2 separate regions of the Homo sapiens genome follow, and region 2 is linked to region 1. The links come from fine-mapping of genetic effects on gene expression. Tissue or cell type: stomach. Region 1 holds a variant in brackets; the other region holds the start of a gene. All regions are shown on one strand. Distances are between the middles of the regions.

Region 1 (2,690 bases):
GCTAAGCAGCTAAACTTTTTTAGTCATTGGTGAGAAAGCAAGCAGGTTTAGCAATTGAGAGAACAGAAGATTTTGGATATTAAAATCAGGGATCAAAACAATTCCAGTATTAACCACTGAGTGTTACTAATACAAAGACTCACAACAGCAAGAACACTACTAAAATTCAAATGATTGTATTCAGCTAAGATACAATTCTTATAGAGCTTACCTATGAATCGCTCAAACATATCTATAGACACACATCTCCTGGTTGAGAAGCATGGGTGCTCCATAGATTAAATATGATAAATGTGTACCAGTTAAGGGTCCATTAACTACTGATAGAAGAAAACTTGAGAACCTTGGTAGCCTAGCAAAAGAAAAGTTTATTTTTTCTAATGCAGAAGTTGTAAGATTCAAACTGGAGCTACAGAAGGCCATCAAGAGAGGACTCTCATGCATGATTTGCCTGATAACAGAAACTATCACAGGAAGTTTTTCTGTTGTTTTTGTTTGTTTGTTTTTTCTTTTTTCTTTTTTTTTTTTTTTTTTTTAAGATGGAGTCTCACTCTGTGCCCCAGGCTGGAGGTTTTTTTTTTTTTTTTTGGGGACAGAGTCTCGCTCTGTCTCCCAGGCTGGAGTGCAGTGGCACGATCTCGGCTCATTGCAAGCTCCGCCTCCCGGGTTCACGCCATTATCCTGCCTCAGCCTCCCAAGTAGCTGGGACTACAGGCGGCTGCCACCACGCCCGGCTAATTTTTCGTATTTTTTAGTAGAGACGGGGTTTCACCATGTTAGCCAGGATGGTCTTGATCTCCTGACCTCGTGATCCACCTGCCTCAGCCTCCCAAAGTGCTGGGATTACAGGCGTGAGCCACTACGCCTGACCTTTTTTTTTTTTTTTTTTTTTTTTTTTTTTTTTAAGACAGAGTCTGGCTCTGTTATCCAGGCTGGAAAGCAGTGGCACAATCTCAGCTTACTGCAGCCTCTGCCTCCTGGGTTCAAGCGATTCGTGTGCCTCAGCCTCCTGAGTAGCTGGGATTACAGGCGTGCACCATCACACCCTGCTAATTTTTGTATTTTCAGTAGAGGTGAGTTTTCACCATGTTGGCCCAGCTAGTCTTGAACTCCTGACCTAAAGTGATCCGCCCGCCTTGGCCTTCCAAAATGCTGGGATTACAGGCGTGAGCCACCAGGCCTGGCCACAGGAAATTTTTCTAAACCACAGCTTACTACATGAGTCACATGAGCACAGCTAGGCACATATACAAGAACATTTGCCTGGCACACTGTCTCACAAACCCAATCCAAAACTTCAAGGGCATATTCCTAATTTATTTGACTATCAGGCCATAACTAAATAAGATAACGGGTCCTACCAGCAACTTCCAACATTTGCCAATCAAAACTCGCCAGCCCTTGTAAGACTTTGCCAATGCCAATAA[G/A]CTTTCTTTCCAAACAATTTACACACCTCCTATTTCCCCAAGAAAAACTTAACCTTATCTTTTGTTCTCTGGACATACTAGAAGCCACCACCATCCATATTTATGTCCTGGATTTCAATCCTTCTTCTTATATATTATGCCTAAATAACAACTTTTTACTTGGAAATTCACCTCTCTATATTTTCTATGTTAATACTAATATAAAGGCTGGTTGAGACTTGGAATTACTGAGCCTTTGTCATTCAAAATCTTTCCTTCGAGTTTTACTTGTTACTGTTTGTGGTCTAGAAATAGTCAACTTTTCCAACTCTGCAAGGCTCTACATTTCTAGACTATAGTCGTCCATCTGTGAGGGGATTAGTTCCAGGACCCCCTAGGATACTAAAATTCTCAGTTGCTCAAGTCCCTGATATAAAATGGTATAGTATTTTCATATAACCTATGCCTATCCTCCTTTATACTTTAAATAATCTCTATATCATCCCTATATTACCTATAATACCTAATACAATGTAAATGCCATGTAAGTAGTTGTTATACTGTATCATTTTTTATTTGTATCCCTTTTTATTGTTACACTGTTATTTTTTATTTTGGAGGGTTTTAAAGAATATTTCTGATCTATCATTGGTTGAATCCTCTGACGTGGAACCCACAATTGTATTCCCTCTTATTTCTGCTTTAAAATTGGCCAATTTACCTCTTTCCTCTACTGTTATGCTAATCACAGCCTGTAATGACCAACGCTCACCACTAACATTCTTATTTTCCAACCTCTTTGCCTCAGCGGGCTAGCAGGCTGCCTTCTGGGTTATCACAGGTAGTGATTAAATGTTCTGCCCTGCACAGCACAGATCTCCAGTTTGTTGGTCTCCATCCTCATATGGCAATGTCCTCACCTCCCACTGCCTGAACTCTAAGACAAGCTTTTAGGTTTTTGTTAAAGCAGCACTCCACTTATAGGCACAAATTTCTCTATTAATTATGGAGGGATAACTGCTGCAACACATAACCCCCAAATCCTGGTTACTTAACAGAAGTCTATTTCTTGTTCACGTGAAATCCATGAAAGGTTAAGTGAGACTTATGGCTTGCTTCAAAAAGAAGTAAGGAAGATTTTGAATCCTACTCACTGTGTTGGATTTCTGAAAAGAGCCTGCTTTATCCCAAGTTCATAATTTCTTTCTTGTGATTCATATTTAATCCAATAGCTTCAGCGATCTTGGAAGCTGAATAAAATGCCAGATCTCATATAAATTACTT
Region 2 (2,690 bases), 44 kb before region 1:
ACATGCTAACCAAGAGCTGTCTTTGTCATTTTGGGATGTTCACGGGCTGGAGTCCCAGTAGCCATCTCCTAAATCCTAAACCCTTCAGTTCTTCAGCCATTTTGCTGCTAGAAAGTGTGTAGCTGCTGCCTTTATCCAAGGAACTGATATCTTCCACACCTCTGAAACCTGGAAGACCTTCTCAAGGTACATAGGGAACTTCCTGGCATTGGGAATAGGATGGTTTCTTCTCTTATAGGGTTTTATGCACCAAAAAGAGAAATGCCACTTCTTCTCTTTCTTCCTGAACTTTTAAAAAAGTAGTCCTGCCAAGTCTCATCATTTCTCAAGCACCTGTCCTTGGTCCTCTGCTTTTCTCTCTATATAATCTCCCTAGACAACCTCATCCACCTTTCTAACTGCAAGGAAAAACGCTGTGTAGATTTCTCAAAATTCTGTTTCTCTGAATTGGTCTTCTCATAAACCTGCAGATCCCATGCTCTCATCTTGCTTGACATCTCCACCAGGGTGACATCAACACATTCGAACCTGAGGTCCTTCGCCCTCCGTGCACCTAAAGCAGCTGCCCTTTTCTTTCTTCTACAATCTCCGTCCTCCCAGTCACCTGGCACATTCTTAGACTCTGCTTCTTCTTGCCCTTCATAGCCCATGGGTGACCACCGTCTGACAATTTTGTATCTGTACTGCTTTTATTTATCAACTCTGCTCCCTTCTTATTGTTTCTATTCTAGTTCTTTATGTCCCATTACTTCCCACCTAGATGATTACACTAATTGCTTAATCTGCTCTTCTGATTGCCAAGGCCGTCTCTTCCATAAAAGATAATTCCAGACAAAAAGCTATTGTCTAGATTAATCTTTCTGTCCTAAGAATGTATCAGTTCTTGATCTAGATGCTTCTTACATTTATCACTAACCTTTGTATAAAGTATTATTTTATTCAACAAAGATTCATTGCTGAGCAGTCTGTGAGAAAAGCAATGGGGAGCAAAACAGATAAGATATCTACCCTCATGGCACTTATAGTCTCGTGGGATGACAAACATTAATCAACTAATCACAAATATCACAACTAAAATGTGCAACCCCAAATTGCAACACATACCTTGAAGGAAGACTGCAGAGTTGCTAGGAGAGCTCACAGGTTTCATCACTTTCCCAGAGGGAGGACTGTGTAGGATTCAGCCTTAGATCCTGAAAGTCTAGTCCAGAGCCCTGCACATGGAAGTACTGAATAAGTTGAAGGAACATATGCATCAAGAAAAAAAATTCAAAACAAACTAACAAAAAACACAAAAAATGAAAAAAGAATAAAACAAAGAAAAAAAGCCAAAAGAACATGTGCATCTACTTCTGACATATACATGTGTGATCTTTTCTGTACTACACAATACTGAATAAAACACACACCGGATGTTCCCTCAAATACTGACCTCAACACATAGCCACGTTAGCTGTTTGCTTTTGTTTCCATGACCACATGTCCATGGGGCATCTAATCTCTAAATACACCCTATTTTCTTTGCCAGCATGACAACATGTAGAAACTTGTTATCCTGGTAGCATTACCAAGAATAATTGTTGCTTTATGGTGAAAGTTTTTAGGCATGCTTTAATACTTTGCTGTTATCACCAACACAAACCCATCATCCCTCTTCCCTACAGTTTGGAATGTTTGCTGAAGATGTCAAACAACATTGTTTCTTTTGCCCCTTGGGAAACTGGTTCATCCTCCAGCTGTCCTTTGTGTCATTCGCCAGCTTCCTCTCCATTTCCAAAGCTGTTTGAGTATTACCTCTTCATCCTCATGCTCTTACCTTTTGTCTGTCACTCTTTCATCATTCTGCTATTATGATCACGTAATTTTTGGAGTCAGCTTTTCGCTGGAACACTGAGTGACACATATCACTTGGCTTATTTTATCTCTTTTTTTTTCTTTTTACAATACTATTAGATAATTTGTTTCAAGAAGCACTTTTGTGCATAGAATCTCAGGTCTGATTTGGGTGTGTGTGTTGTTTGTTTCCAGCTTTGAATGAACAAGGACTGGAAAAGATGAGCTTATTTGTCATGGTAGGAAAAGAAAAACTGCAAAAAAATACAATAAATTTCACCAACAGAGAATGTGTTATATAAATAAGGGAGCAACTACATGTTAAAAAATGCAGAGCCATGATCCTGAAGACAATTTAATGACCTGGAGATACAATGCAGTGTTAAATAAAAAGCAGTTTCACCCCAATATTTTAACATTATATAGTATATTTACATATATGTAGGGGAAAATGCTGGACAACCATACAAAAATGTGACTAGTGATTTTCTCTAGGTGATGGAATTTTATTTTCATATATATATATATATATATATATATACTTTTTTTTTTGAGAGAGGCAGACTTGCTCTGTCCCTCAGGCTGGAGTGCAGTGGTGCAATCTCAGCTCACTGTAATCTCTGACTCCCAGGTTCGAGTGATTCTCCTTCCTCAGCCTCCCAAGTAGCTGGAATTACAGGCGCGTGCCACCAGGCCTGGTTAATTTTTTTGTATTTTTAGTAGAGACAGGGTTTCACCATGTTGGTCAGGCTGGTTTCAAACTCCTGACCTCAGGTGATCCACCCACTTTGGCCCCCCAAAGCGCTGGGATTACAGGCATGAGCCACCACACCTGGCCTCTTCTATATATTTTTTAA

Alleles and levels. Positions count from the first base shown, and alleles are read on the strand shown. Sizes are in standard deviations (SD) of each study's normalised expression.
For the expression in stomach of the gene that starts at base 1,398 in region 2, allele G in region 1 goes with a lower level than allele A (small effect, 0.38 SD a copy in GTEx).

What was found. PIP is the estimated chance that this variant, and not a neighbour inherited with it, causes the effect. A credible set is the group of variants that fine-mapping cannot tell apart.
Region 2: it holds the start of TRMT9B, and the variant in region 1 is the best candidate, but not a certain one, in a credible set for the expression of TRMT9B in stomach (GTEx, PIP 0.87).

The regions. Positions count from the first base shown.
Region 1 is chr8:12,900,454-12,903,143 of GRCh38, reverse strand. No RefSeq gene overlaps it. Among named protein-coding and RNA genes, the nearest start is that of TRMT9B, 44 kb to the left of the region's middle. RefSeq lists an enhancer at 1,916-2,417. The variant G/A (reference allele first, on the strand shown) is at 1,428.
Region 2 is chr8:12,944,381-12,947,070 of GRCh38, reverse strand. TRMT9B (tRNA methyltransferase 9B (putative)) reads right to left here and starts at 1,398. Exons shown (of 5, transcript NM_020844.3): 1 at 1,105-1,398.